Linked DNA regions of Homo sapiens: regions 1, 2, 3, 4, 5 and 6 are each linked to region 7. Evidence: fine-mapped expression QTL. A gene starts in region 7. Each other region holds a variant in brackets. All regions are shown on one strand. Distances are from middle to middle.

Region 1 (4,556 bases), 30 kb after region 7:
GTGCGCGTTTCAGTCCACAGATGCTCAGCCGCGGCACAGAGCACATGAAGGTGGGCCTCGCGCCTGAAGCGAAACTGCCACAAATGGGAGAGCCGACAGTGTGAGCCTCACCAATGGGATGTTATCGAATCACACATCAAAGGGGACGGGATTCTCCAAAGTGGCCAACAACTCACAACAAACCCGGGACTTGGACAGCCACGGGGGCCACAAGGCGGCACGGAGAGCAGTGTGAGTGTGAACACGACCCATCAAGGGTGGAGGCATGAGACAGTGGAAGAGGCCCCAGCTGCCATGGATTGTTGGGCAGGAAAGCCAGCATCTGCAACTTCTTTTGTGAGAAAAACAGATCCTTCTTTGTCCAAGCCAATGTAGTTGGGTTTTCTGTTACCTGCAGCTCAGAGTATTCTTAACCGACCCCGTGTGTGCTGGGTCTGGTATGACGTCAGTGCTCCCGAAACACATCTTGAGTGAATGAGTGAGAAAATCTTGAGTCTCATCTCCTCTGGCTCCCATAAGCCCGTAACTCTTTCCTGATCCAAGTCAACCTTTCTCAGTCCCTCTGTCCTCTCATGAAAGCCTGAAACCCCTGCCTTCCCTAAATGTTGGTGCCCATGGCCCTAAGCCAGCTCCAGTGCTCCCAGCACATCCTCTCCCCAGGCGGATGAGAACCCACCAGTGGGTGGTCATCCCTCCTACACTGACCAGCCCGAACCCTGGGCTCTGAGCCAGACCTGGTGAGCCTCAGACCCGTTTCCAAACTTCCTGGATGGCCCTGGGGGCCCACAGATAGAGGTTGCTCATGCCTGCCCCACGCTGGGGTGATTAATGCCCCCTGCAGGTGCCTGCCCCTCACCAGGGTCCCAAGCTGCCGACGGCTTTGTCATCCATCCAGTCACCCAGGGAGATCCTGGAGGCATTCCTCCTGCCTCCTCACCCTGACATCCACTGTCTGCCAGATCTCTCCTGCCCTCTTCTCTCTTCTCTACAGCTGGGGTCCAGCTCCTCTTCCCCCTGGATGCTGCCCCTTGCCTGCTCACAATCCTTCCATGGCTCCCCAGTGTCCTCATGATAAGCACCGAGCACTCCAGGCCCTTGGCAGGCGGGCCATCCGCATCACCAGCCTTTCCACCCAGCACTGGCGGCTGGGCCCCTTCAGGCTGCTGGCCCCCCACACACCATGTTCTTTCCTCCCACTCCTTCCAATCCCTCCAGTCAAAGTCCTTTCAGACCTCTCTAAGCCCCAACCTTCCATCTCAGCCCCCAAATCCTGCTGTCTCTGCCTCCAGCATCTTTCCCCAGCCCTCCCCTTCCCTGCACCCCACACCCCCTGTCCCAGCACATGCCTGGTCCTCCCTCACCTGAACTGCTGCCCCTGTGTTCTCTCCCACACCCCTGCAAATCTGTCCCCATCAGGCTCTCCTCCCTCTCAGCCTTCTCCTCAACCCTGTTTCACAGCCTCTCTCCACCATCTCTCCGATCCACCTGACCTCTGCATTTTCTCTGGCTGAGCTCCTGTCCTTCTGGTCCCTCCAACCACAGTCCCCCTTACCTGTGGCCTGGGCCACTGCCTTGAGAAGGACACCATCACCCACGCCAAGCTCCAGGCCCTGCTGGGGTGGCCCAAGGTGGTTGAGGCTGAGGTAGAGGACAGGGAGGAGGTCTGGAGGCGACAGGGCCACCACGGAGCGCAGCAAGTTGCTCAGCGTCTCCACCATCCGGAGCCTGGAGGAGGGGACGGGGGTATGAACACGTGGTTCCTCAAGGTCAAAGTGTGGTGTCGGGGTGGGGTGGGTTTAAGGGGGTGGACACTAGAAAGAAATGGAGAAAGAAGAGGAAAGGGCTCAGAACAGTCCCAGGCTCTGGGGCCTGGAGCCATGAGGACAATCACAGATTGCTGGAGGTGAAACCGCCTTTGCAAAACCGTAACTGAGGAAATTATGACAGTGGAAAGAAATCACACCTAACCGATTCCATCTTGCTTCTAACCTTTAAGCTGTCCTTGTTCAGTCCTGGGCATAGGCAGAACTAACTTTGGGAAGGAATTTGGTTCGTGGCTTGACTCTGAAACGAAATTGGTAATAGCCCTTTCTGGAAAAGACCCCTTTTTGCCTAAGGACCTGCCTTCGCAAGACTCACAAATTAGCTACAAGATTAGAAATTTAGGTTTAGGGGTCACGCAGCCTCTGGCTTCCCCGATTGCTCCTGGGGATAACATCACTACTGTAAAACCTAAGATGAGTGCTTAAGATAGTTTGCAGACCCTGCACTCAGTCTGACGCCACCCAGACTGTAATCTGGCTCAACAAGTTCTGCCATCCCACCCAGGAACAGAAGACAGCAAGAAAACCTCCCTTCGACCCCCTGTGAGTCCATCTTCAACCTGACCAATCAGCACTCCCCACTTACCAAGCCCCTACACGCCAAATTATCTTTAAAAACTCTGCTCCCCACATGCTCAGGGAGACTGATTTGAGTAAAAATGAAACTCCGGTCTCCCGCACAGCCAGCTCTGCGGGAATGACTCTTTCTCCACTGCAGTTCCCCCGTCTAGATAAATCGGCTCTGTCTAGGCAGCGGGCAAGGTGAACCCACCGG[A/G]CGGTTACAGTGGGGGAGTAACTTGGTGTGACGGTAACAATGATGAAGATGGTGATGATCAGCCCAGAGAAACGACAGCTGATGCTACGGAGCATTTTCTAAATTCAGGAGCTGGCTTTGAGCACTTTGCACCTTTTTTTTGAGACGGAGTCTCGCTCCATCGCCCAAGGTAGAGTGCAGTGGCACGATCTCGGCTCGCTGCAACCTCCACCTTGTGGGTTCAGGTGATTCTCCTCCGGAGTAGCCGGGACTACCGGTGCGCACCACCATGCCCGGCTAATTTTTTTTAATTTTTAGTAGAGACGGGGTTTCAACGTGTTGGTCAGGCTGGTCTCGAACTCCTGACCTCAAATGATCCGCCCGCCTCGGCCTCCCAAAGTGCTGGGATTACAGGCGTGAGCCAACACGGCCAGCCCTTTGCACCTTTTAACTCATAGAATCTTCACAGCTCCCCTCTGAGGTAGGTACCATTATTATTTCCATTTTACGGATAAAGAAACAGAGGCACCGAAAGAGTCCGTGGCTTGCCCAAGGTCACAGAGCGAGTAAGTATGAAGCTGAGATGTACACCAAGGCCGTGTGCCTGAGGACTGTGCTCCCAGCCACCAAGCTGCACCACCTCTAAAACGAAAACCGTGTTTCTGTCTAAAACTTCAAAGCTGGAAAGAATGGCTTTGTTACTGAAAAACTTAGGGGGCCTCATTAGAAACAGAAGCTGGGTTTTTCCTACAGAAGTCTCATTACCGAGGTTTTTAAGGTGCAGAGAAGAAATACAAAAACCAACATCAGGGAAATCCCTCAGTAATCATTGTAGGCAAAAGCCACCATTGGATGGTGCAGTGGATGGAACAGCCCCCCCAAAATTCAGGTCCACTCAGAGCCTCACAACATGACCTCATTTGGAAAGAAGGTCTTTGCGGATGTACCTGTAGATTAAGATGAGAGCATAGTGAATGAAGGTAGGCTCTGAATCCAAAAAGCATCCTTACAAAATACAGAAGAGGGCCGGGTGTGGTGGCTCAGGCCTGTAATCCCAGCATTTTGGGAGGCCGAGGCGGGCCGATCACTTGAGGTCAGGAGTTCAAGACCAGCCTGGCCAACATAGTGAAACCCCATCTCTATTACAAATACAAAATTAGGGCCGGGCGCGGTGGCTCACACCTGTAATCCCAGCACTTTGGGAGGCGGAGGTGGGCGGATCACGAGGTCAGGAGATCAAGATCTTCCTGGCTAACACAGTGAAACCCCATCTCTACTAAAAACACACACACAAAAAATTAGTTGGGCATGGTGGCAGGTGCCTGTAGTCCCAGCTACTCGGGAGGCTGAGGCAGGAGAATGGTGTGAACCTGGGAGGCGGAGCTGCAAGTGAGCCGAGATTGCGCCACTGCACTCCAGCCTGGGCAACAGAGCAAGACTCCATCTCAAAAAAAAAAAAAAACAGAGTGCTGGGAACAGCCTGAAATGCTCCACTCATGTTGGGGAACTGAGAAATGGCATGTGCCATGTGAGAACGAAGGGACACTACAGAGCAGTCACAACAGGCTCGAACCACTCAACCAACATGGACACATGTGGAAACGGGTTTGATAGTGAAGGCAAGCAGAATGAGCCGTACCCATGATAATTTTGTTTGTTTGTTTTTGAGACAGAGTCTCACTCTGTCACCCAGGCTGGAGTGTAATAGCGTGATCTCGGCTCACTGCAATCTCTGCCTCCTGGGTTCAAGTGATTCTCGTACCTCAGCCTCCTGAGTAGCCGGGATTACAGGCACCCGCCACCATGCTGGGCTAATTTTGTGTTTTTAGTAGAGATGGGGTTTCACCATGTTGGCCAGGCTGGTCTTGAACTCCTGACCTCAGGTGATCCACCCACCTTGGCCTCCCGATGTGCTGGAATTAAGGCATGAGCCACTGCACCCAGCCTCCATGATAATATTTATATAAACTAAATACACA
Region 2 (4,491 bases), 89 kb after region 7:
TGGGGCCAGATGGATAGAGGAGCCACAATGAATTCATCTCCATAGCAACTCAAGCTTCCTCCTCCATCATCTGGACCAGTGCGTCCCAGTGGCAACTTCTTGACATGAGTCGATTCTACCTTCAAATGACTGACTCATGCCAAATGTCCTGGCCACAGAATGGGCCTGTGACCCAGTCCTGGTCAACGAGTCTGCTCAGGTTGAGGTGGGAGGCTTTTTTATTTTTATATTTTTGTAGAAACAGGGTCTTGCTATGTTACTCAGGCTGGTCTTGGACTCCTCGGCTTAAGCAATCCTCCTGCCACAGCCTCCCAAAGTGCTGGGATTACAGGTGTGAGCCACTGTGCTCAGAACTAGGAAGCTTTTTTTTTTTTTTTTTTGAGTCTTGCTCTGTTACCCAGGCTGGAATGCAATGGCACGTTCCCGGCTCACTGCAACCTCCACCTCCCAGGTTCAAGTGATTTTCATACCTCAGTCACCTGAGTAGCTGGGATTACAGGTGTGCGCCATCACACCTGGCAAATTTTTGTATTTTTAGTAGAGACGGGGTTTCACCATGTTGGCCAGGCTGGTCTCAAACTCCTGACCTCAGGTGACCTGCTCGCCTCAGCCTCCTAAAGTGCTGGGATCACAAGCGTAAGCCACTGCGCCCGGCCTAGGAGGCTTCTAATAAAGATTCTATCACTCCTAAGAAGGCCTAGAGACATGATCAGGCCTAGACCTGCTGATGATTACCTTGGTATGGTGTGATAATGAAGTCCACACTGAGGATGACAGAGCTGAGATGAAGAAAATCTGGATCTTTGCTTGGCTCAGTTGAGTCTCTCGAGTCTGCTCTACCATGGGGCTTCTTAAGTAAAATATATCCTTTTTTGTTAGAGACAGTGTCTCGCTCTGGCCCAGGCTGGAGTGCAGTGGTGCAAACATAGCTCACTGCAGCCTTCCAGCTCTTGGGCCCAAGGGATCCTCCAGCTCAGCCTCCTGAGTAGCTAGGACTATAGGCTCGTGCTACCACCTAGCTAATTTCTTTTTCTTTTCTTTTCTTTTCTTTTTTTTAACTTTTTGTAAAGATGAGGTCTCTTGCTACGTTACTTGGGCTGTTCTCAAACTCCTGGCCTCAAGCGATGCCCCTGCTTCAGCCTCCCAAAGTGCTAGAATTACAGATGTGGGCCATTGCACCTGGCCAATCAAAGATACCCTAATGATTTAGGGAAGTTTGAGTTGGGGTTTCTGTTGTCGCAACTGATGAAGGGGATTTAATTCTATTATAGGTGACAAAGTCCAGGTTGAAGTAGCTCAGCATTTTTCAAACTTTAGCGTGGACGTGAGTCACGTGGGCACCTTCTTAAAATACAGAGTCTGACTCAGTAGGTCTAAGATAGGGCCCAACATTCTAGCAAGCTCTCCGATGATGTGGCTGTGCTGGGTTGTGGAGCACACTTTGAGTAGCAATGAAGGAACTTGAGATAAAAGACAATTCAGGCCGGGTGTGGTGGCTCACACCTGTAATTCCAGCACTTTGGGAGGCTGAGGTAGGTGGATCACTTAAGGCCAGGAGTTCAAGACCAGCCTGGCCAGCAAGGCAAAATCCTGTCTCTACTAAAAATACAAAAATTAGCCAGATGTGGTGGCGGGTGCCTGTAGTCCCAGCTACTTGGGAGGCTGAAGCATGAGAATTGCTTGAACCCAAGAGGCGCAGGTTGCAGTGAGCCAAGATCGTGCCACTGCACTCCAGCCTGGGTGACAGAGCGAGACTCTGTCAAAAAAAA[A/AAAAAAG]AAAAAAGAAAAAAAATGATTCAGTGGTTCAAGTCATGCGAAGTCAAAGGCTTTGATGGCAGCTGACTGCAGGGGCTCAAACAATGTCAGGTTTCCCCTCTCTCGCCTGCTTTTCGTGCGATGGATTTCTTCAAAAGACAGCTCTCTCCTGAGAAAGGGGGGGACTAGAAGTTCCCATATCACACCCTCCTATCTTGATCCAAAAATACCATTCTATCAGCATTCGTATATTAAGTCTCAAGGAAGCAGCAGGTTGGATTTATGGAGGTTATCAGTTATCCATGGCTACATAAATGCTGTGTTAACAACTATAAAACTTCCTAAGTATATAACAATAAACATGTATTTGGAATCAACCTAAATGCCCATCAATAATCATAAGCTAGATAAAGAAAATATGGTACATATACACCATGGAATACTATAGAGCCATTAAACAACTAGATCATGTTCTTTGCAGGGACATGGATGGAGCTGGAGGTCATTATCCTTAATGAACTAACACAGGAACAGAAAACCAAATACTGCATGCTCTCACTTATAAGTGGGAGCTAAATGATGAGAAGAAATGACACAGAGAGAGGGGCAACACACATGGAGACCTACTAGGGGGTGGAGGATGGGAGGAGGGAGAGGATCGGGAAAAATAACTAATGGGTACTAGGCTTAATACCTGGGTGACAAAATAATCTGTACAACAAACCCCCATGATAAAAGTTTACCTATACAACAAACCTGCACATGTACCCCTGACTTTAAAAGTTAAAACAATAATAAAAATGAACACGTATTGCTTATGAGTCTTGGGTCACCTGAGGGGTTGGCTAGACCCTTGCTTTTCAGTGTGGTGCATGCAACAGTGTCATGAACATTCCCTAGGAGCTTGTTAGAAATGCAGATTCTCGGCTGGGCACGGTGGCTCACACCTGTAATCCCAGCACTTTGGGAGGCTGAGGTGGGCGGATCACCTGAGGTCAGGAGATCGAGACCATGCTGGCCAACATGGTGAAACCCTGCCTCTACTAAAAATACAAAAATTAGCTGGGCGTGGTGGCGCACCTGTAGTCCCAGCTACTCGGGAGGCTGAGGCAGGAGAATCTCTTGAACCCAGGAGGCGGAGGTTGCAGTGAGCCGAGATCGCTCCACTGCACTCCAGCCTGTGCGACAAAGTAAAACTCCATCTCAAGAAAAAGAAAGAAAGAAAAAAGAAAGAAATGCAGATTCTCAAACCCATTCCAAAACTACAGAATCAGAATCTCATTCTAACAAGATCCTAGTATGCATGTTATACTTTGAAAAGCAAAGCAACTGATCATAAACCTACAATTATCGGAAATAGGCTTATTTAAAAAAAATGAAAGCAGCTAATCTTGATAAAGTAGCTGATCTTCGTTGGGCTTGCCCACATATCGGGAGTCATCTGGCTTTTGGGTGAACTAAAAAGGCCTTGGCAGGGCTTGGTGGCTCATGTCTGAAATCCCAGCACTTTGGGGGGCCAAAGTGGGAGGACCGCTTGAGCCCAGGAGTTCAAGACGAACCTGGGCAACATAGGAAGACCCCGTTTCTACAAAAATAGAAACAAAATTAGCCTGGTATGATGGTGCACGTCTGTGATCTCAGCTACTCAAGAGGCTAAGGTGGGAGGATCTCCTGAGCCTGGGAGGTCGAAGCTGCAGTGAGCCATGATTGTTCCACTGCACTCCAGCCTGGGTGACAGAGTGAGACTCTGTCTCAAAAAATGCCTTGGCCGGGAGGACTAGGGTAACTCGTTCAGCACGTAGACCCCTCCAGTACAACCCTATGAAACTTCCCTGCAGCCCCTGCCTTTGCAGACAGCTCTTCGTCTGCTGTGCTGCCCATTGCTTTCTTGCAATGTACTATCTGTCTAATAAATCTGCCTTTCTTTCCCTACGACTGTCTTGATAAATGCCTTTACCTCCCATGATACTGGCCCCAGCTAGTCACACCCGTGATGCCCATCTCTTTTTTTTTTTTGAGATGGAGTCTCGCTCTGTCGCCCAGGCTGGAATGCAGCAGCACGATCTCGGCTCTCTGCAAGCTCTGCCTCCCGGGTTCACGCCATTCTCCTGCCTCAGCCTCCCGAGTAGCTGGGACTACAGGTGGCCGGCACCACACCCGGCTAATTTTTTCTATTTTTTAGTAGAGACGGGGTTTCACCGTGTTAGCCAGGATGGTCTCGATCTCCTGACCTCATGATTCGCCCACCTCGGCCTCCCAAAGTGCTGGGATTACAGGCGTGAGCCACTGCGCCCGGAGATGCCCATCTCTTAAAATAAAAAATAAAAAAAAAAAAAGAAAGAGAGAAAGGAAAGGAGGCAGGAGGGATCCTGGGAAGGCAAACAACAGCTATTGAGCGCAAACCAAATCCAAAACTTCTCCACTTGCCTGTTTTATCATTAGATTCTTAGATGTGGGCTATCTGGTTAGTGACGGGAAGCTGAATTAATTCATTAATTGATTCACCAAATAACACACAGAACCCTGGGGTGGAAAAGAGCTCAGCCCATAAGGTAAAGAGAAGATGGGCCAGTGTAGATGGGTCAGAGTGTGAAAGAGGGAGAGATTTGGACAGTGAAATCCGCAAGCCCTTAAAGATAGAAGATGAGGTGAGTCTTTATCCTGGGAGGTATGGGAAGCCTTCAAAAGGTTTTAAACAGAGAGTGGCTTGATTGGATGTACATTAGAATAACCACCTCCCCTA
Region 3 (4,535 bases), 95 kb after region 7:
GTTCTAACATCGCCTGCATTTCCATTTTTCCCAAAGCAGCCCAGTTACTTATTAACATACTGCTTTTTCCAGTGACACGTGTTCACAGTTATTAAGTCGATCTCCCGCCAAAATAGAAGCTCTATTTTGTTTTCCATTGTATCCCCAGTGCCTAGAACAGTGCCTGTTGCAAAGTAAGCTTTGAGTTAAAAAAAAAGATGAAAGAATGAAAATGGCAGACTGCCTAGCAGAACTAGCCCTTCCCGATGTTTCATTGTTGCTATAGTGACGATCCAGTCTGCACGAAGATCCCAGCTTCCTTAACCTTGTTCCTACCTCCAGCCAGCTCACCCATTGGCCACCTGTATCTCCTGCTGTAGCAGCCAGAAAGCTACAACTCCCAGCCGGCTGAGCGCCACCAGCGCTTTCGCGTCCAAGTCCCTTTGCTGAGTGTGAGGGCCTGCGCAGTAGAACCCGCGGGCCCAGAGCTCCATCTGAGCATGTGCAGGCTGCGGGGTGTTTCCTTCGTCTGCTGGCGGGAGAGGAGTGGGGAGGAGCTCTTTACCCGCTGAGCATTGTGGGGCCCGCTTGGATCTCCTTGTCCAAAGGGTCTGGGCGCCGGGGCTGCAGTCTCTGGGTGAGGAGGCGGACGCGGGAAACCTGCTTCGGTCTCCATGGTTACGAGCCGCTCAGCGCGCAGGAGGGGGATTCAAAGGTTGGCGTTGCCACAGTAACCCTGGAGTGGAAGGAGACGGGGATTAGAGACCTCGCGGGAGAAATTAGACTAACAGCCTGGGAACTGGAGGGATGGAGGGTGTGCCGGAGGAATCAGTCTGCAGTAAGGGGAGTTGGGGTGATATTAGGGGAAATGGGATGTTTTCAAGGACAGGGAGTGTTTTGGTGAATTCCTATGTAATAAGGAGATTTGGGGAGATCATTGAAATCGACAAGTTACTAGATACTTGGGATGCTCAAGGGGAAGTGGAAACGCAGTAGGATCCGCCCGCCTCAGCCTCCCAAAGCAGTAGGGAAAATTGGGGTATTAAGCTCTTTTGCCATTCTGCAGTTATTATAGAGCTCCTGCTGGAAGCCAGGCACAGTTGACAGTACTGGTAAACAGGACAGATGTGACTATAGACGGAATTGGGGTTTCATGGAGAAGGGGAGGTATAAGAAAAGGGGACTGTTGTCCTCTATGGGAGGGACTGGGAGGCGATTGGGAAGAACTGGCGCTGTAAAGAGAAGCTGGAAGTTTTATAAGGGAATTGAGGTATTATATAAGTTAATTCTGTTGTTATTTATAGAAGGCCAACTCAGTAGCAGCCTCTAGGAAGCACTGAGGATTCCTCAGTATGCAAAGGCATTTAGTGATAGAGTTACCAGATTTAGGGGGAAAGCAATGGCCAGTTAAATTCTAATTTCGGAAAATGCATAATATTGTAGTTACTCTCTGTTGTTTATCTGAAATTCAAATTTAGCTGGGCATCCTGTATTTTATTTGGCAGCTCTCATTATGGTTAATTTAAGTGTTTGTGAAGAGTGGGTTATTATAGGGGAAACAGGTATTATAGAGTAATTGGGTTGTAGGAGGAGCTGGGGATAGTCAGGAAAAGTCGGAGTGTTGAAGCTAACGCCAAGATCAGCACTGACTGTGTGCCAGAGACTATGCTAAGTACTCTTATTTTTAAAAACGTTTTATTATGGAAAGTTTCGGCCATATACAATTGTTTGCTTGTTTTTGAGATGGAGTCTTACGCTGTCGCCCAGGCTGGAGTGCAGTGGCATGATCTCTGCTCATTTCAACCTCTGCTTCCCGGGTTCAAGCGATTCTCCTGCCTCAGCCTCCCGAGTAGCTGGGATTACAGGTGCGCACCACCACGCCCGGCTAATTTTTGTAATTTTAGTAGAGAAGGGGTTTCACCATGTTGGCCAGGCTGGTCTTGAACTCCTGACCTCAAGAGATTCACCCACCTCAGTCTCCCAAAGTGCTGGGATTATAGGCGTGAGCCACTGCGCCTGGCCCATATACAATTGTTAAACAGATAATATATAATAAAGCTACTTGTACCCATCTCTGCTTTACATGAGTGCTGTTGAGGCATCCCAACATTCCTATGAGGTAGCGTTACTGTCACACCCCCATTTTACAGATGAGGAAACTGCACCACAGAGAGGTTAAATAACTTGGCCAGAGGTGTTAGAACCAGAATTTGGACCCACACAATCGGGCCCCAGAGTCTGGGCTCTCAGCTGCCATATCACATGTAACCTCCGTCTGGGAAATGTGAGTAGGGAGTGAGGCATGATGGGAGCAACAAGAGAGTAGTAGTAAGGTATAAAAGGAAAGGTAGGGAATTGGGCCGTTTGAGCATTGTGCAGTTGTTATAGGATTTTTATTTTTATTTTTTGAGACAGAGTCTCACTCTGTCACCCAGGCTGGAGTGCAGTGGTGCAATTTTGGCTCACTGCAACCTCCACCTTCTGAGTTCAAGCAATTCTCCTGCCTCAGCCTCCCAAGTAGCTGGGATTACGGGTGTGCGCCACCATGCCTGGCTAATTTTTGTATTTTCAGTAGAGACGAGGTTTCACCACGTTGGCCAGGCTGGTCTCGAACTCCTAACCTCAAGTGATCCACCCGCCTCAGCCTCCCAGAGTGCTGGGATTACAGCCGTGAGCCATCGCCCCCAGCCAGTTGTTCTAGGATTTTTATAAGATGTTTTGGGAGACTGGGGGAGTTACAGAAGAGTTTGGTGTTTTGAAACATTATGGGAAGTTGTATAGTTGCATTTCAATAGAACAGTAGCAGCTAGCCACATGTGGGTGCATTACATTAATTATAATGAAATAAAACTCAGCACATTTCAGGAAGCGCCTACCGTATTGGATAGTGAAGATCTAGAGCAGTCCCA[A/G]TGAGTCTGGATAACAGGGATTTAGGGTAACCAAGGGTTAAGGCACAAGCAGGTGCAGCCAGTTCTAGGCAAGATTGGGCAGCATCCAGGCCACATCCTCACTCCTGTGATAACAAGACAGAAGTCTCCACTTCAGCCTCTTGATTGGTCACGGGCCAATCCTTCATAGGGTGTAACCAACTGGAGGCCTCTAAAGGGCACCTAGGGGTGTTACCAAATTCTTTTAGCTTAATGAAAACTCTAAAGAGCACTGCAGTCAGGGGCTCTTGAGCTACTTGCTCAAGCCCACTCCGACTCTGGAGTGTACTTTCACTTCCATAAATCTGTGCTTTCGTTACTCCGCTCTTTTGTTGCTTTGTTTGTGCATTTTGTTCAATTCTTTGTTCCACACACCAAGAACCCTAACAACTCACAGTCAGGACCTTCCATAGGGTAACACCATCACTGCAGAAAGTTCTGTTGGACAGCCCTGATGTGTGGGGTGACAAGTGTGGAGGCTTTCCTGGCTCCTAAAGTTCGACCTTATCTCTTAGCGATTGCTCTCGTACTTCCTCTGACTCACCCCTAACCTTCTCCTCTCTGTTCTACTAAAAATACAAAAATTAGCTGGGCGTGGTGGTGGGCACCTGTAATCCCAGCTACTCAGGAGGCTGAGGCAGGAGAATCACTTGAACCCGGGAGGCGGAGGTTGCAGTGGGCCGAGATCACGCCACTGCACTCCAACCTGGGCGACAGAGAGACTCTGTCTCAAAAAAAAAAAAAGAAAAGAAAAGAAAAAAAAAACCATGCTGAATTGGCCAAATATTTATCTAGGACTTCCCAGCCTGAGAACTGTAAGAAATAAAATTTTACTCTTTAAGCCACTGAGTCCATGGTATTTTGTTATGGCAACCTGAGCAGGATAAGGTAGTATACATACCTTTAACTTCACTGTGTAACTTCAGATTAATTTCCAAAATCAAGCATTACCTAACCAACAGCAGAACTTACATTTGTGCTCCATATACTCACCAGTAGTAGGCATTACTGACTTCTTAATAAATGGAAGTTTGATGAATATAAAATGTAGTATTTTTATGGCTTTTAATGAGGTTTCTGATAACTAGACGTATGAAATTCTACTTTTGTTCATTGTCCATTGCGATTTACAAACTGTAACATTTTACTCATAACGTTTGCCCATTTTTCACAAGGAGTTTTCTGTTTGTTTACTCATGTTGAATCATTTTTATGTATTATAAATATCACCTGATATTTACATCTTCTTCTTAGTAGCTTCATTCTAATGAACTTCTTCTTTTTTATTGTTGTTTTTCTGTTTTTTTTTTTTTTTTTTTGAGACAGAATGAGACTCTGTCAGCCAGGCTGGAGTGCAGTGGTGTGATCTTGGCTCACTGCAACCCCTGCCTCCCAGGCTCAAGTGATTCTCATGCCTTAGCCTCCCGAGCAGCTGGGATTACAGACATGCACCACCATGCCCGGCTAATTTTTGTAATTTTAGTAGAGACGGGGTTTCACCATGTTGGCCAGGCTGGTCTCGAGCTCCTGGCCTCATCTGATTCACCCACCTCGGCCTCCCAAAGTGTTGGGATTACAGGCGTGAGCCACTGCATCCGGCCTTCTATTTTTAATTTAGCATCCTCAAAT
Region 4 (4,556 bases), 76 kb after region 7:
TACCCACCATGACATAAATAAGCCTCAGCTGTTCTTCCCTGAACCCACCCTCTGCAGGATTGTCCCTGTGCAGAACAGCTCATTCATAGATCAGAGCCTTCCCTGGAAGGGGAGTTGTCTTTTCATTTTGAAGGCTGTCTTGGAATCTCGGCTAAACCACGGTTGGCTCCTGCGTCTGTGTTTTGACCTGCTTTCATACTTTTTTTTTTTTTTTTTTTGAGACGGAGTTTCGCTCTTGTCACCCAGGCTGGAGTGCAATGGCGGAATCTTGGCTCACCGCAACCTCCGCCTCCCGGGTTCAAACGATTCTCCTGCCTCAGCCTCCTGAGTAGCTGGGATTACAGGCATGCGCCACCATGCTAATTTTTGTGTTTTTAGAAGAGACGGGGTTTCTCCATGTTGGTCAGGCTGGTCTTGAACTCCTGACCTCAGGTGATCCCCCCGCCTTGGCCTCCCAAAGTGCTGGGATTACAGGCATGAGCCACCGTGCCCAGCCCCTTAATGCTCTTGAAAGAAAGGAGGAAGAAGTTCTAGGACAGGAGAGACAGATTAGTGAAGCAACATTTAAATATTTACTTTTTGAATATGTCATACATTCACATGGTTCTAAAAAAGGTATGTGGTGAAAAGTCTTATCACATCCTGTCCCCCAGGTCCCCTCCCCTGCAGAGTTATTAGCAGCTTATAAATCATATCTCGCTTTCTATCCTATGGACCAGCACTGCCCGGTGGAACTTTCTACAATGATAGAAATGTTCCTTATCCAGGCTAGGCATGGTTACTCACACCTGTAATCCCAGCACTTTGGGACTCTGAGGCAGATGGATCACCTGATGGCAGGAGTTCGAGACCAGCATGGCCAACATGGCAAAACCTGATCTCTACTAAAAATTCAAAATTAGCCAGGCATGGTGGCAGGTGCCTGTAATCTCAGCTACTCGGGAGGCTGAGGCACAAGAATCGCTTGAACCCAGGAGGCAGAGGTTGCAGTGAGCTGAGATTATGCCACTGTACTCTGGCCTAGGTAACAGAGTGACACTCTTGTCTAAAAAAATAAAAAGAAAGAAAATGGTTCTTATCTGTACTGTCCAATCCAGAGGCCACTGGCCACACATGGCTACAGAATGCTTAATGAGGCCAGTATGACTGAGGAACTGAATTTGTCATTTAATTTATCGAAATGTAAACAACCTAATGTAGCTAGTGGCTTCTGGATTGGACAGCGCAGCTCTGCACATATACAGGTCAATTTGCATGTCTGTATGTTTAACTTTAATTTTTAACTTTATTTCCTCTTTCTGCCCCGCCACCCCCCACCCCCAGCAAGCAGGGCAGCCTAGTGTACACGCTGTTTTTGTTTGTTTGTTTGTTTGTTCTTTGAGACAGGGTTTCACTCCTGTCACCCAGGCTGGAGTGCAGTGGCACGCTGTTGGCTCACTATAACCTCCACCTCCTGGGCTCAAGTGATTCTCCTGCCTCAGCCTCCTGAGTAACTGGGACTATAGGCATGCACCACCATGCCTGGCTAATTTTTGTATTTTTAGTAGAGACGAGGTTTCACCATGTTGGCCAAGCTGGTCTCAAACTCCTGACCTCAAGTGATCCACTCACCTTGGCCTCCTGAAGTGCTGGGATTACAGGTCGGGGCCACCACACCCGGCCTGTACATGCTGTTTTGCATCTTGCTTTATACGTTGGGGAGTGCCAGATGTCACCATCTTTCGTTCTTCCTCTGGGGCTGGTCAAATCCCCCTGAGAAAACTCCTCTGGCCTCCTGGCGGGGGGTGAAGGCCAGGCTGCCAGGGCCAGGCTGCCAGCTTCTGGGAGCTGCAGGGGCAGAGGCAGGGAGCTGTCAGGCATTCAGCCAGCAAGACGCACTCAGTACCCACTTGGGGTTCAGAATCCCCCTCCCTCATCTTCAGATGGGCCAGATGTCCCCAAAGCCAGCGGCCCCTTTCTGTTTCACCCTGTCTACAGAATAAACCCCCAGTCACTGGGGGTGGGGGAAGAGTAAGGGGAGAGGGGAAACGAGATTTGGAGGTCTAGCTGCTGCTGAAACAGCCCTCAGTTCGTCTTTATTTTGCCTTCTGCAAAACTGGCCTGGTGTTGCCAGCTCCTTTTGAGGACTTTGCTACCGGTTCTCAGCATCCCTCAATTGCTGGCTTAGGATTCATGGGTTTTTAGGGGTGGGGTGGGATTAGCATGTCCAGCTGCTTTCCAGTTTCCAAAGTTCTGTCCCTATCATATTGCCTCTGATT[T/TA]AAAAAAAAAAAAAAGCCATTTTAAAAAAAAGATGTAATTGAGGTTCAAGAGAGAGTGAAACTAGAGAGGTGTTCAATCCATCACTTTTACACAGAAATTTCACCTTTTTTTCACTTATAAAATCTAATGAAAGAGTTCTATATTATTATGTTAATAATACAGTAGTAATATAACAGTATAATGTAATAATTAATATATTATATTAATTATATATTATAATTATATATTATATTATATTATATATATTATATATTATATATTAATTATATATATTATATATATTATATATTATATTATAATATATTATATTATATTATATATATTATATATTATATTATTATTATATTATATTATATATATTATATATAATATTATATATATTATATATTATATAATATAATATTATATATTATATTAATATTATAATATGTAACGCATAACATGTAATATTGATAATATAATAGGTGCGATGGCTCACACCTGTAATCTCAGCACTTTGGGAGGCCGAAGCGAGAGGATCACTTGAGCCCAGGAGTTCAAGACCAGCCTGGCCAACATAACGAGCACCTGTCTCTACAAAAAATTAAAAAAAAAAAAATTAGGCATGGTGGCATGCATCTGTAGTCCCAGCTACTCAAGAGGCTGAGGCACGAGGGTTGCTTGAGCCCAGGAGCTTCAGGCTGCAGTAAGCTATGATCACACCACTGTACTCCAGCCTTGACAACAGAGTGAGACCCTTTAAATAGATAGATAGATAGATAGATAGATAGATAGATAGATAGATAGATAGACAGACAGACAGCAAGCTTTAAATTTTCATCCCAAGCCTAGGTCAAGCAACAATCAGTCTTTCCACTTCCCAGCAGTCTTCCAAAGGAAGGATTATTTGTAAAAAGTGCCTGCACTTCCTGAGTTGGGTTGCTCTCTTGATCTTTGGAGGGGATCAGACAAGAAGGATGCGCCCAAAGCCACAAGGCATGATTTAAGGGCAAGACTGGGGGGCGACTTCACCCAGGGAGGTGTTAATACCTTTTTTTTTTTTTGAGATGGAGTCTCGCTCTGTCTCCCAGGCTGGAGTGCAGTGGCGCAATCTTGGCTCAGCACGACCTCCATCTCCCAGGTTCAGGTGATTCTTGTGCCTCAGCCTCTTGAGTAGCTGGGACTACAGGCGTGCGCCACCAGGCCTGGCTAATTTTGTGTGTGTGTGTTTTAGTAGAGATGGGGTTTCATCATGTTGGCCAGAATGGTCTCGATCTCCTGGCCTGGTGATCTGCCTGCCTCGGCCTCCCAAAGTGCTGGGATTACAGGCGTGAGCCACCGCACCCAACCTTTAACACCTTTTATCACCTGCCCTGCCTGATGATGATGGGCTTTGGGGTCCAGTCACATCTCCATTCCCTCACTTGTGGCAGGCACCAGGGTAACCAGCAAGCAAGCCCTGAAAAGAGAGACCTTGCCCGGAAACGTTGCAGCGTTCTCTTACGTGTATGCTTTGCCTTCTGAGAATGGCGAGCATTGATGCAAGTGTATCCCTTTTAAGAATACTCAATGGGGCCAGGCGTGATGGCTCACACCTGTAAGCCCAGCACTTTGGGAGGCTGAGGCGGGTGGATCACGAGGTCAGGAGATCGAGACCAGCCTGGCTAACATGGTGAAACCCCGTCTCTACTAAAAATACAAAAAATTAGCCAGGTGTGGTGGCAGGCGCCTGTAGTCCCAGCTACTTGGGAGGCTGAGGCAGGAGAATGGCGTGAACCCGGAAGGCGGAGCTTGCAGTGAGCTGAGCTCACACCACTGTACTCCAGCCTGGGTGACAGAGCGAGACTCCATCTCAAAAAAAAAGAATACTCCATGGGAAGCTGGTATGATCTCAGTGGAGGGCAATTTAGCAATATCTATCAAAATGACAAGAACACTCACCCTTAGGCTCACAATCCCACTACTGGTGATTTATCCTGCAGATGTAGTTGCACAGCTGTGGAAGGACTTACTTACAAGGTTAATCATTGTTGTTTGTGAAAGCAGCAGATTAGAAACAACCCAGACTCCACCAACGGGTAATGGTTACATAACTTGTGGTATATCCATCCATGGATTACTACACAGCACTAAAAAAGAATGAGAACTTTGGGAAGCCGAGGCGGGCAGATCACAAGGTCAGGAGATCAAGACCATCCTGGCTCACATGGTGAAACCCTGTCACTACTAAAAATACAAAAAATTAGCCAGGCATGGTGGCAGGCACCTGTAGTCCCAGCTACTCGGGAGGCTGAGGCAGGAGAATGGTGTGAACTCAG
Region 5 (4,556 bases), 31 kb before region 7:
ACAACAGCTGCAAAAAAATAAAATAAAGTACTCAGGAATATACCTAACCAAGGAGGTGAAAGACTGCTACAAGGAAAACTACAAAACACTGCTGAAAGAAATCATAGATGACACAAACAAATGGAAACACATCCCATGCTCATGGATGGGTAGAATCAATATTGTGAAAATGACCATACTGCCAAAAGCAATCTACAAGTCCAGTGTAATTCCTATCAAAATACTATCATTTTTCACAGAGTGTCAGTTTGAACTCCGATCCTGCCCCTCCTGGCTGCGTGGCCTCAGGCACCTGGGAGAGTCCATGCTCCTCTCCATTCCCAAAGGAGCACCACATGAATCAGACACGTAAAGTTTTTAGGACAATGGCTGGCTTCAAGCCAGTGTGCAGTCCACACTATCATTAGGGATTCATGGCAAAGTAGGATGCTTACCTTCTGGGGGAGGATGTTCCCCTTGTGAACTTTCTTGCAGCCTCAGTAATCGGGCTGCAAAAGAGCAGAGGCAGGGGGAATGTTTAACTGTAAAGTCACTAGTTATAGAAAATACAGATTACCTGCAGCGACGTCTCTTTAATAGAAATGGCAGCCATGGGTTGGAGTCTGTTGATACGGGTTCTGGAGAGCTAATTTTGTACCCGTCTTCCAACTCTGTGCTCGCTGACCTCATGTTGGTAGCTTGAAATTTGCCATGATGTGATCAAGTGGGTTTCATACTAGGAATGCAGGGATGGCTTAACATATGCAAGTCAACAAATGTGATATATCACAGAAACAGAATTAAAAACAAAAATCATAGGAGATGCAGAAGCATTTCACAAAATCCCACATCCCTTTATGATTAAAGCCCTCAACAAAATCGGTATACAAGAGACATACTTCAATGTAATAAAAGCCATCTATGACAAACCCACAGCCAACATTACACTGAACAGGGAAAAGTTTAAAGCATTCCCCCTGAGAACTGCAATAAGACAAGAATGCCCACTCTTATCACTTGTATTCAACATAGTACTGGAAGTCCTAGCCACAGCCATCAGACAAGAGAAAGAAATGAAGGGTATCCAAACCAGTAAAGAGGAAGTCAAACTGTTAGTGTTCACTGATGATATGATTGTACACCTAGAAAACCCTAAAGACTCATCCAAAAAGCTCCTAGGTCTGATGAATGAATTCAGTAGAGTTTCAGGATACAAAATCAATGTACACAAACAGTAGCACTGCTATACACCAACAATGACCAAGCTGAGATTCAAATCAAGAACTCAACCCCTTTTACAACAGCTGCAAAAAAATAAAATAAAATACTCAGGAATATACCTAACCAAGGAGGTGAAAGACTGCTACAAGGAAAACTACAAAACACTGCTGAAAGAAATCATAGATGACACAAACAAATGGAAACACATCCCATGCTCATGGATGGGTAGAATCAATATTGTGAAAATGACCATACTGCCAAAAGCAATCTACAAGTCCAGTGTAATTCCCATCAAAATACTATCATTTTTCACAGAACAAAAAATCCTAAAATCCTTTTTTTTTTTTTTTTGAGACTTAGTCTCGCTCTGTTGCCCAGGCTGGAGTGCAATGGCCAATTTTGGCTCACTGCAACCTCTGCTTCCCAAGTTCAAGCGATTCTCCTGTCTCAGCCTCCCAAGTAGCTGGGATTACAGGCGCATGCACCATGCCTGGCTAATTTTTGTATTTGTAGTAGAGATGGGGTTTCGCCATGTTGGCCAGGCTGGTCTCAAACTCCTGACCTCAGGTGATCCACCCGCCTTGGCCTCCCAAAGTGCTGGGATTACAGACGTGAGCTACCATGCCCAGCCACAATCCCAAAATCCATATGAACCAAAAAAGAGCCCTCATAGCCAAAGCAAAGACTAAGCAAAAAGAACAAATCTGGAGGCATCACATTACCCAATCAAATTATACTACAAGCCTATAGTTACCAAAACAGCACGGTACTGGTATAAAATTAGGCATGTAGAACAATGGAACAGAATAGAGAGCCCAGAAATAAAGCCAAATACTTATAGCCAAGTGATCTTCGACAAAGCAAACAAAAACATAAAGTGGGGGAAAGGACACCTTATTCAACAAATGGTGCTGGGATAACTGGCAAGCCACATGTAGGAGAATGAAACTCGATCCTTATTTCTCACCTTATACAAAAATCAACTCACAAATTCAATGTGAATTTGCATCAAAGACTTAAATATAAGACCAGAAACCATAAAAATTCTAGAAGATAACATCAAAAAAACTCTTCTAGATGTTGGCTTAGGCAACGAGTTCATGACCAAGAGCCCAAAAGCAA[A/G]TGCAACAAAAACAAAAATAAACATATGGATATATGGGAACGATGGCTCACGCCTGTAATCCTGGCACTCTGGGAGGCCCAGCTGGGCGGATCTTCAGGTCAGGAGTTCCAGACCAACATGACGAAACCCCATCTCTATTAAAAATACAAAAATTGGCCAGGTATGGTGTTGGATGCCTGTAATCCCAGCTACTCAGGAGGCTGAGGCAGGAGAATTGCTTGAGTCTGGGAGGCGGAGATTGCAGTGAGCCGAGATCGTGCTGCTGCACTGAAGCCTGGGTGATGGAGTGAGACTCCGTCTCAAAAATAAACAAATATATGGGACCTGAGTAAATTAAAAAGCTTCTGTACAGCAAAGGAAGTAATTATCAGAGTAAACACACAACCCACTGAATGCGAGCAAATATTTGCAAACTAGGCATCCACAAAAGACGATTATACAGAACCTATAAGGAACTCAAAGAAATCAGCAAGAAAACGAATAATCCCACCGAAAAGCATCCCAATGATATGAATAGACATTTCTCAAAAGAAGATATTCCAGTGGCCAAGAAACATATGAAAAAAATGGTCAGCATCACTAATCATTAAAGAAACGCAAATGAAAGCCACAATGAGATACCATCTTACTCCCACAAGAATGGCCATTGATAAAAATTCAAAAAAAACCATAGACGTTGGTGTGGATGCGGTGCAAATGGAACACTCACACACTGCTGGTGGGAATGTAAATTAGTACAACCTCTATGGAAAACAGTATGGAGAGTCCTCAGAGAACTAAAAGTAGATCTACCGTTCGATCCAGCAATCCCACTACTGGGTATCTACCCAAAGGAAAGGCAGCCATTATATGAAAAAGACACTTGTGGGCTGGGTGCAGTGGCTCACGCCTGTAATCCCAACACTTTGGGAGGCTGAGGAGGGGAGATCACTCGAGGTCAGGCGTTCAAGACCAGCCTGGCCAACATGGTGAAACCCCATCTCTACTAAAAATACAAAAATTAGCTGGATGCGGTGGTGCACATCTGTAGTCCCAGCTACTTGGGAGGCTGAGGCAGGAGAATCACTTGAACCCACGAGTTGGAGGTTGCAGTGAGATTGCACCACTGCATTCCAGCCTGGGCAACAGAGCGAGACTCTGCCTCAAAAAAAAAAAAAAAAGACACATGCACATGTATGTTTATAGCAGCACAATTCACAATTGAAAGATATGGAACCAGCCGAGCATGGTGGCTCATGCCTGTAATCCCAGCACTTTGGGAGGCTGAGGCGGGTGGATCATGAGGTCAGGAGATCGAGACTATCCTGGCTAACACCGGTCTCTACTAAAAATACAAAAAAAAAAAAAAAAAAAAAATTAGCTGGGCGCAGTGGTGGGTGCCTGTAGTCCCAGCTACTCAGGAGGCTGGGCCAGGAGAATGGCGTGAACCTGGGAGGCGGAGCTTGCGGTGAGCCGAGATCGCGCCACTGCACTCCAGCTTGGGTGACAGAGTGAGACTGTCTCAAAAAAAAAAAAAGATATGAACCCACCTAAGTGCCCATTGACAAATGAGTGGATACAGAATATGTGGTATATAAACACCATGGAATATGACTCAGCCATAAAAAAGAATAAAATAATGTCTTTTGCAGAAACTTGGATGGAGGCCATCATTCTAAGTAAAGTAACTCAGGAATGTAAAACCAAAAACCATATGTTCTCACTTATAAGTGGGAGCTAAGCTATGGGTACGCAAAGGCATACAGAGTGGCATAACGGACTTCAGAGATTCAGAAAGAGGAGGGTAGGGAGGTGGGGATAAAAAACTACACATTGGGGCCAGGAGTGGTGGGTCATGCCTGTAATCCCGGCACTTTGGGAGGCCGAGGCAGGTGGATCACCTGAGGTCAGGAGTTCGAGACCAGTCTGAGCAACATGGAGAAACCCTGTCTGTACTAAAAAAATACAAAATTAGCCAGGCATGGTGGTGCATGCCTGTAATCCCAGCTACTCGGGAGGTTGAGGCAGGAGAATGGCTTGAACCCAGGAGGTGGAGGTTGCGGTGAGCAGAGATCGCTCCATTGCACTCCAGCCTGGGCAACAAGAGTGAAATTCCGTCTCAAAAAACAAGAACAAAAACAAAAAAACACTACACATTGGGGCCAGGTGTGGTGGCTCATGCCTGTAATCCCAGCACTTTGGGAGGCTGAGGCGGGCAGATTGCTTGAGCTCAGAAGTTCGAGACCAGCCTGAC
Region 6 (4,556 bases), 800 kb after region 7:
TCTTTTCTTTTCTTTTTTTTTTTTTTTTTGAGACGAAATCTCGCTGTTTTCCCCCAGGCTGGAGTGCAATGGCACAATCTCGGCTCACTGCAACCTCCGCCTCCCGGGTTCAAGCGATTCTCCTGCCTCAGCCTCCCGAGTAGCTAGGATTACAGGTGCCTGCCGTCACGCCCAGAAAATTTTTGTATTTTTAGTAGAGACAGGGTTTCACCATGTTGGCCAGGCTGGTCTCGAACTCCTGACCTCAGGTGATCCACCCGCCTCAGCCTCCCAAAGTGCTGGGATTACAAGTGTCAGCCACCGCACCCAGCTCTTCTTATAGTGATACCCACCGTAATCTAGCAGGCCATCATCTTAACTAATTACATCTGCAAACACTCTATTTCCAAATAAGATCACATTCTGAGATTCCAGGTGGACATGAATTTGGGAGTGTGGGGGGAGTATACTGTTCAACCTGGTATTGTTAACTCCATTTTACAGAGGTGGAAACTGAGGCACAAAGAGGCTGAGTAACTTGCCCAGTGTCACAGAGCTTATGAGATTTGGTCACAAAGCAAAGCCTAGATTTGAACGCTGGGCAAAATAGTTAGAAACCTCTTGTTCTTTTTTTGGTTTATTTTTACTTTTTTTTTTTTTTTTTTTACCTGAGACAGCGTCTTGCTCTGATGCCCAGGCTGGAGTGCAGTGGCATGATCACAGCTCACTGCAGCCTCAACCTCCTGGGCTCAAGCAATCCTCCCACCTGACCCTCCTGAGTAGCTGGGACCAGAGGTGCAAGCCACCGCACCAGGCTAATTTTAAAAATTTTTAGTAGACACAAGGTCTCGCTGTGTTATGTGAGTTAGTCTTGAACTCCCGGGCTCGAGTGATCCTCCCACCCTAGCCTCCCAAAGTGCTAGGATTCCAGGCGTGACCCACCTCTCCTAGTCTGACCTTATGTTCTTGGCCACCTAGCTGTACCTGAAATACATAAATACTAAGTTCACCACATATGTTGTTCCTATTTACTTATTCCTCCAAGATCTGGAGATTGTGGAGGACTTGAAAGAGGTGGGTTGAAGTTGCTATTGTATAACCGTCCCAATCTGTTTTGAATAAAGAGAAGAAAGTGTGTTATGGGGCAGGAGCAGTCATGGAAACCAAAAAGGGCGACATCAGGCTGTGCGCGATGGCTCACGCCTATAATCCCAGCACTTTGGGAGGCTGACGTGGGCGGATCACCTGAGGTCAGGAGTTTGAGACCAGCCTGGCCAACATGGTGAAACCTCGTTTCTACTAAAAATACAAAAATCAGCTGGGCCTGGTGACACATGCCTATAATCCCAGCTACTCGAAAGGCCGAGGCAGGAGAATCACTTGAACCCGGAAGACAGAGGTTGAAGTGAGGCAGTGAGCAGAGATTGTGCCACCGCACTCCAGCCTGGGCAACAGAGCAAGACTCCCTCTCAAAAAAAAAAAAAAAAAAAGGGACATTAGGACACGAGACGTAAGAAAGACAGGTAGAGGCTGGGGCTGCCCTCAGCCAGGTTCAGGGCCAAGGGCCTGCCATTTACAGGCTGGAATTGGGGGCTGGGCAGAGGGGGCAGAGGGGAATGACCCTGTGCCTTTCCCCAGGCCACCCGGGACCTTGCCCAGTACGACGCAGCCCATCATGAAGAGTTCAAGCGCTACGAGATGCTTAAGGAACACGAGAGACGGCGTTATCTGGAGTCACTGGGAGAGGAGCAGAGAAAGGAGGCGGAGAGGAAGCTGGAAGAGCAACAGCGCCGGCACCGCGAGCACCCTAAAGTCAACGTGCCTGTGAGGACCCCATTTGTGCCCATCCACTCCCTACCACATCCAGTTCAAACGCAAGACAAGAAAGCAGTTAAAGAACTACAATTCCCAGGGGCCCTTGAGGCAAAAAAACTCCCTGTTACTGTACCTGGCTGCCCCAGGGTCTGCTGGGAGTTGTAGTTTTCTTAGTTTTCTTGCTTGAGGGAGATGATGTTTGTTGGATGAGGGTAAAGGGATATTTGGTTTTATCCCATGGCATCCAGACTTCTTGCTCATGAGCTCCTGGCTCTCCCCTCCACAGGGCAGCCAAGCCCAGTTGAAGGAGGTGTGGGAGGAGCTGGATGGACTGGACCCCAACAGGTTTAACCCCAAGACCTTCTTCATACTGCATGGTAAGGTGGGGAGGGAGTTCCAGAGCCAGGATGAACCCTAGATTCTGACCCTTCTAGGACCTGAATGCTAAGAGGGGTGTGTCTGTCCCAGGAGGGCTTAGTCAGGCCCAAGAGCCAAGCCTATGTCCCCTGGTTGACCAGACAGCCCTGCCTCTCCCGACTACAAGGCTAGGATCTGCATGGAAGGGTTGGGCCTCTTTTCTAGCAAACACCAGACCTCGGGGTTCTAAGGACAGCTGGTGTCCTCTGTAAGCAAACCAGGCTTGGCTAGGCCTGGGCCCTCTGCCCACAGCAGCCCAGGAGAAGCCCTGGTCCACTCTGGGAACCCTGTCGCTAGGAGTGGGTTGTTCCCTAAGAACCAGGCCTCCAGAAGCCTGGAAAACCCTTTCTCTTTTTCTTTTTCCTTTTTTTTTTTTTTTTTGAGATGGAGTCTTGCTCTGTTGCCCAGGCTGGAGTGCAGTGGCATGACCTCGGCTCACTGCAACCCCCTGCCCTCCGCCTCC[C/T]GGGTTCAAGTGATTCTCCTGCCTCAGCCTCCCGAGTAGCTGGGATTACAGGCATGCACCACCATGCCCGGCTAACTTTTGTATTTTTAGTAGAGATGGGGTTTCACCATGTTGGCCAGGCTGGTCTCGAACTCCCAACCTCGTGTGATCTGCCCCCTCAGCATCCCAAAGTGCTAGGATTACAGGCGTGAGTCACTGCGCCCGGCCTCGAAAGCCCTTTCTCTATGGTGGATCAAAGGCACACTCCCCTCAGTCTGTCTCTTCCTGTCTGGAAATGTGGCCTGGGGTTGCCAAGCCCCCTCAGGTATGCCAAGCACCCTGTCCCAGAATCTGTAGCCGGTCAGATAAGCTTAGCAAGGCCTGACTCATTCATTCAGCAAACCTTTCCTAAGTTCCCTCTAAGGACCAAGCTTTGTCAAGACCCCGTGGATACAACTGTAAACAAAACAAAGTACCTCCCCCTCAGAGCCAGTGATCAGGCACACAGATCATACCATACTTTAGTAACTCCACGAGACTGTACAGTATGAGAGGTGCTAGCATTTTACGTAAGCTGCCAATTAAATTAACGTACCATTGAAAACAAGATGCGTCCTGGGCTGGGTGTAGTGGCTCATGTCTGTAATCCCAGCACTTTGGTAGGCCAAGGTGGAAGATGGCTTGAGCCCAGGAATTTAAGACCAGCCTGGACAACAAAGTGAGACCCTGTCTCTATTTAAAAAAAAAAAATAGACCAGGCGTGGTGGCTCACGCCTATAATCCCAGCATTTTGGGAGGTTGAGGTGGGAGGATCACCTGAGGTCAGGAGTTCAAGACCAGCCTGGCCAACATGGTGAAACCCCATCTCCACAAAAATACCAAAATTAGCTGGGCATGATCGTGAGTGCCTGTAATCCCAGCTACTCAGGAGGCTGAGGTGGGAGAATCACTTGAACCCGGGAGGCAGAGTTTGCAGTGAGCCAAGATCGTGCCATTGCACTGCAGCCTGGGTGACAGAGCAACACTCCATCTCAAAAAAACAAAGAAAAAAATAAAAATTAAAAGTTAAATAAATAAAGATACATCCCTATTTCAGGGGTGATAAAATAGAAGAACACAAAAGTGCATCTCAGAATCAACGAAGGTTCTAGGCCGGGTGTGGTGGCTCACGCCTGTAATCCCAACACTTTGGGAGGCCTAGGCGGGTGGGTCCCTTGAGGCCAGGAGTTGGAGACCAGCCTGGCCAACATGGCAAAACCCAGTCTCTACTAAAAATACAAAAATTAAAAAACAAAACAAAAATTAGCCAGGCATGGTAGTGCTCACCTATAGTCCCAGCTACTCAGGAGGCTGAGGTAGGAGAATCGCTTGAACCCGGGAGGCGGAAGGCGGGGGTTGCAATGAGCTGAGATCACACCACTGCACTCCAGCCTGGGCAACAGAGTGAGACTCTGTCTCAAAAAGCAATAGAAAGTAAAAAAGAATTAGAAGATTCTGTAATGGGGTCTCAGGTAGTGACGTGTACTACCTCGCAGCCTTGACCACCCAGGTTCAAGTGATCCTCCCCCTCAGCCTCCCAAGTATCTGGGACCACAGGCACGTACCACTATGCCTGGCTAATTTTTTTAATTTTTAGTAAAGGCAAGGTTTTACCATGTTGCCCAGGCTGGTCTCAAACTCCTTTGCTCAAGCGATCCACCTATCTTGGCCTCCCGAAGTGCTGGGGTTACAAGCATGAGCCATCCCACCGGGCACCACCCCCCGTGTTTTGTTTTGTTTTTTTTTTGAGACAGGATCTTGCTATGTTGCCCAGGCTGGAGTCAAACTCCAGGCCTCAAACAATCCTCCTGCCTCAGTCACCTGAGTAGCTGAGACTGCAGGTGTGTGCCACTGCGCCCAGCTT
Region 7 (4,556 bases):
AGTACAAAAGTCACCTGGGCATGATGGCGGGCGCCTGTAATCCCAGCTACTCAGGAGGCTGAGGGAGGAGAATCACTTGAACTCAGGAGGTGGAGGTGCCAGTGAGCAGAGATCATGCCATTGCACTCCAGTCTGGGCAACAAGAGTGAAACTCTGTCTCAAAACTAAATAAATAAATAAAAAGTAAATGAATGTGGCTTCAATCTCTCAACAAGGACTGGGGGTCAGTTTTCTTTGTCTCAAAGTTTAACTATGAATTAAATTCCTCTCATGGTAATTTTGGCCTCTGCACTAGAATAAGAAAAAAAAATCTAGCCTGTGAGGTTAGAAACAAGATGGTCAGTCATGTTAGCTTTCTCTCATTACTTACATTTCTGCGAAGGCAGTTTCAAGACCCCCCTTATGAAATTAATCAGCTTCCCCCCACCACCTCCAAATTCATATGTTGGACTTGTAACCCCCAGAACCTCAGAATGTGACTGTATTTGGACATAGGATTCTTTTTCGTTGTTTGCTTTTTGAGACAGGGTCTTGCTTTGTCACCCAGGCTGGAGTGCAGTGGTGTGATCGTGGCTCACTGCAGCCTCAGCCTCCTGGGCTCAAGCGAGCCTCTCACCTCAGCCTCCCGAGTAGCTGGAAGTGCAGGTACATGCTACCATCTCCAGCTAAATTTTTTATGTTTTGTAGAGATCAGGTCTTGTTATGTCACCCAGGCTGGTCTTGAACTCCTAGGCTCAAGAGAGCTTTCCACCTTGGCTTCCCAAAACGCTGGGATTATAGGCATGAGTCATCGCACTCGGCCAGACATAGGCTCTTAAAGGGGTGACTAAGTTAAAGTGGGGTCCTGAGGGTGGCCTGGAATTTGGTTTGATTGGTTTATTTTATTTTATTTTTTTTTGAGATGGAGTCTCGCTTTGTGCCCTAGGCTGGAGTGCAGTGGCGCAGTCTCGGCTCACTGCAAGCTCCGCCTTCCGGGCTCACGCCATTCTCCTGCCTCAGCCTCCGGAGTAGCTGGGACTACAGGCGCCCGCCACCACGCCCAGCTAATTTTTTGTATTTTTAGTTGAGACGGGGTTTCACTGTGTTAGCCAGGATGATCTCGATCTCCTGACCTCAGGATCCGCCCGCCTCGTCTTCCCAAAGGGCTGGGATTACAGGCGTGAGCCACCGCGCCCAGCCTGATTGGTTTTATAAGGAGAGATTAGGGCCTCTGCAAGAGGCTTCAGGAGAAACCAACCCTGCCAACACCTTGATCTTGGACTTCTAGCTTCCAGAAGTGTTAGAAAATAAATTCCTAGCCGGGCGCGGTGGCTCACGCCTGTAATCCCAGCACTTTGGAAGGCCGAGTGGGGTGGATCACGAGTTCAGGAGTTTGAGACCAGCCTGGCCAACATGGTGAAACCCCATCTCTACTAAAAATACAAAAATTAGCCGGGTGTGGTGGTGTGCGCCTGTAATCCCAGCTACTCGGGAGGTTGAGGCAGGAGAATCGCTTGAACCCCGGAGGCGGAGCTTGCCGTGAGCCGAGATCGCGTCACTGCACTCCAGCCTAGGCGACAGAGCGAGATGCTGTCTCAAAAAAAAATAAATAAATAAATAAAATAAAATAAAATAAAAAAGAAAAAGAAATCCTGTTATTTAATTGCACCCAATCCCTGGTACTTGGTTATGGCCGCCCCAGCGGGATGAAACAGCCCTCCCTGCCCCCACGGCTTGCCTGAGCCTGGGTCTGGGGCGTGTGCGCATGCGCGGTGGAGCTTGTGCTCCGGAATCCGGTGCGGAGGCTTGGGCTCCCTGCGCTTAGCGGTGTAGTCGCTGGACAGCTCCTTCAGCCGGAATCTCCGCGGGTGAAGACTGCGGGGATCCTCGGTGCCAAAGCTTCTGTGGTCCTCCTGCTTTCCTTTTCCCCCTGTGGGAGGAGGTCGCGGGCTGGAGGTGTTTCCTCCTGGTCCTGAGCAGGGCCAACCTGGAGGTAAAATGGCCCCTGCGCCTTTAAACAGCCCTCCTCGGCTTGTAGGCCCTGCTTGGTTGCTCCAGCTTTTTCAGCTGTTCCAGAGCTCACCCGGAGCTATTTTCATCCGTGGGATCACGTGGAGGGCTGGGACTTTCCAGGCTTCCTTAGTGATGTCACCCTTCTGTCATTAGGCACCCGAGACCAGTATTCAAAAAAAGAATGTTGTCGTTATATAACTATATTGGAGATAAGTATTCCTCAAAACAGATTAGCTAATCCTCCTATGCATCTGGCTGTCTAATAACCATCATATATAATATCATACTCAAATACCCAGAAAAAGAAATATTGAGGCCAGGCGTGGTGGCTTACGCCTGTAATCCTAGCACTTTGGGAGGCTGAGGCAGGCGGATCATGTGAAGTCAGGAGTTCGAGACCAGCCTGGCCAACATGGTGAAACACCTTCTCTACTAAAAATACAAAAATTAGCTCGGTATGGTGGCGTGTGCCTGTAATCCCAGCTACTACTCGGGAGGCTGAGGCAGGTGCTTCATCCTGGGAGGTGGAGGTTGCAGTGAGCCAGATCCTTAGGGCCAACTCTGGTTCATTTAATGTCCATTTTTAGAAAACCTGTGAGCTCCATTCACAGTGAAGGTTTGAAGCCCAGAAGTGGCCTCCCAACAGGGTACCACATTTCCCAGCACCTTTGCAGCTAGGTGTGGTCATGTGAGCGAGTTATGTGGTCATGTGACCGAGTTCCAGTCAGTGCAATCGGGCATCTGTGGGGAGCACCGCTTCCAAGAGTGGCTCCTAGAAACCTCCCATACTACCCTCCTGCCTACTCTTCCTGAAGCCCAGCACTAAGCGTCATCCCAACTCGATGGGTTTTGAATTTTTTTTTTTTTTTTTTGAGATGGAGTCTTACTCTTTGTCGCCCAGGCTGGTGTGCAGTGGTGCAATCTCGGCTCACTGCAACCTCCGTCTCCTGGGTTCAAGCGATTCTCCTACCTCAGCCTCCCGAGTAGCTGGGAACATAGGCATCTGCCACCACGCCCGGCTAATTATTTTTGTATTTTTAGTAGAGACAGGGTTTCACCATGTTGGCCAGGCTGGCTCGAACTGCTGAACTCAAGTGATCCACCTGCCTCGGCTTCCCAAAGTGCTGGGATTACAGTTGCGAGCCACCGCACCCAGCTTGAATTCTTATTTTTTAAAAATAGATATGAGGCCATAATCCTAGCACTTTGGGAGGCCAAGGCAGGAGTATCACCAATTTTAGAACAGGATTTCACCAGGGGGAAGATGGTCTCCCCTGCTCCCCCTAACGCCAGGCTCACCTCTTCAGTGCCCGCAACTCCAACCATCGCAGGATCTTTTCACTCCTAGACCTGACCATGCCACTGCCCCGCCTGCGGGATAAGGTTCTACACCTCGCAGGAGCTCATGAGGCTCTCCACAGTATAGTTAGTAGTTATAGATGCAGGGTCAAGGAGCTGACAGCATGGACCAAACCCTGGCCCACCACTTCCTAGATAGTGGACCTAGGGAAGGTAACTTACATCCCTGTGCCCCTCAGTGTCCTCACCTGTTAAATGGGGAGAATAAAAGTACCTACCTGGTGGAGCCATCATGAGGGTCACTGAGGAGTGAGGATGACCCTGACTAGCTTCAGCAGAGGGACATGGCGGCCGTGTGTGGCAGATGTGTTCCTGGGGCCCTGCACTGGTGCAGGGAGGAAGAGCCAAGCCCAAAGGAACCATGGTCTCCACACAAAGCCAGTAATGTGGGGATCCCCTGACATACAACATTTACTTTTTTTTTTTGCCTTAAACATTTTATTTGAAATTGAAACACAAATGCACACTAATTTGCCAGTTCTTTAAGGCAGAGCTGTATCAGGAACTCTTAGCTATGAGAAACAAGTCTTTTTTTTTTTTTTTTTTTTTTTTGAGACGGAGTTTTGCTCTTGTTGCCCAGGCTGGAGTGCAATGGCTCGATCTCGGCTCACTGCAACCTCCTCCTCCCGGGTTCAAGCGATTCTCCTGCCTCAACCTCCTGAGTAGCTGGGAGTAACAGGCATGTGCCACTACGCCCGGCTAATTTTGTATTTTTAGTGGAGACGGGGTTTCTCCATGTTGGTCAGGCTGGTCTTGAACTCCCGACCTCAGGTGATCTGCCCGCCTCGGCCTCCCGAAGTGCTGGGATGACAGGCATGAGCCACTGTGCCCGGCTGAAAGCCATGTTTTAGAGTGGCATAATCGCCCTGGGGCTTATTCTTCCCCTACTCCCATGAACAAAAGCCCACAGTTAGGCAGCTGCTGCCCTAGGTTCGCCGGTTTAGGGTCGTCAGGAGAGTTTGTTACTCTTTTTCCTCATCATTACAAGGTGGTGACTTGGCTCCAGCCATCATCTCTAGTCAAGGCAGGAGGAGGGGAGGAGCTGCCACAACCAGGGCTGTCCTTTTTGGTCAGGAAAGATGTTTCTCCAGAAGTCCCCAGCAGCCCCTGTGCTTATGTCCCCTGGGTCTGCCCACACAGGGCTACAGGGCCACTGCTAGCCCCAAGGAGACTCGGAAGGCAATGTTGTCTTCTTGGGCTACAAC

Evidence for each region.
Region 1: its variant is fine-mapped to the expression of PLA2G4C in whole blood (TOPMed, PIP above 0.99). The same link has a PIP of 0.9 or more in blood mononuclear cells.
Region 2: its variant is fine-mapped to the expression of PLA2G4C in whole blood (INTERVAL, PIP above 0.99).
Region 3: its variant is fine-mapped to the expression of PLA2G4C in whole blood (TOPMed, PIP above 0.99).
Region 4: its variant is fine-mapped to the expression of PLA2G4C in whole blood (INTERVAL, PIP above 0.99).
Region 5: its variant is fine-mapped to the expression of PLA2G4C in whole blood (TOPMed, PIP above 0.99).
Region 6: its variant is fine-mapped to the expression of PLA2G4C in cerebellum (GTEx, PIP above 0.99).

The regions. Positions count from the first base shown.
Region 1 is chr19:48,138,419-48,142,974 of GRCh38, forward strand. LIG1 (DNA ligase 1) reads right to left here. Exons shown (of 28, transcript NM_000234.3): 12 at 1,553-1,725. Among named protein-coding and RNA genes, the nearest start is that of LIG1-AS1, 5.2 kb to the right of the region's middle. The variant A/G (reference allele first, on the strand shown) is at 2,599.
Region 2 is chr19:48,197,727-48,202,217 of GRCh38, forward strand. No RefSeq gene overlaps it. Among named protein-coding and RNA genes, the nearest start is that of ZSWIM9, 29 kb to the left of the region's middle. The variant A/AAAAAAG (reference allele first, on the strand shown) is at 1,770.
Region 3 is chr19:48,203,529-48,208,063 of GRCh38, forward strand. It overlaps LOC124904734 (a long non-coding RNA gene), which reads left to right and starts at 633. Exons shown (of 2, transcript XR_007067282.1): 1 at 633-694; 2 at 3,657-3,747. It also overlaps a transcript of CARD8 not described here. RefSeq lists an enhancer at 562-731. The variant A/G (reference allele first, on the strand shown) is at 2,889.
Region 4 is chr19:48,184,939-48,189,494 of GRCh38, forward strand. All of the region lies in intron 3 of ZSWIM9 (zinc finger SWIM-type containing 9), which reads left to right. Among named protein-coding and RNA genes, the nearest start is that of ZSWIM9, 17 kb to the left of the region's middle. RefSeq lists an enhancer at 1,805-1,864 and a silencer at 3,458-3,690. The variant T/TA (reference allele first, on the strand shown) is at 2,259.
Region 5 is chr19:48,077,337-48,081,892 of GRCh38, forward strand. It overlaps PLA2G4C (phospholipase A2 group IVC), which reads right to left. Exons shown (of 17, transcript NM_003706.3): 11 at 435-488. Among named protein-coding and RNA genes, the nearest start is that of PLA2G4C-AS1, 18 kb to the left of the region's middle. The variant A/G (reference allele first, on the strand shown) is at 2,323.
Region 6 is chr19:48,911,394-48,915,949 of GRCh38, forward strand. It overlaps NUCB1 (nucleobindin 1), which reads left to right. Exons shown (of 13, transcript NM_006184.6): 6 at 1,618-1,803; 7 at 2,081-2,171. All of the region lies in intron 1 of NUCB1-AS1 (NUCB1 antisense RNA 1), which reads right to left. Among named protein-coding and RNA genes, the nearest start is that of NUCB1-AS1, 5.2 kb to the right of the region's middle. The variant C/T (reference allele first, on the strand shown) is at 2,675.
Region 7 is chr19:48,108,770-48,113,325 of GRCh38, forward strand. It overlaps PLA2G4C (phospholipase A2 group IVC), which reads right to left and starts at 2,048. Exons shown (of 17, transcript NM_003706.3): 1 at 1,718-2,048. RefSeq lists an enhancer at 1,864-2,023.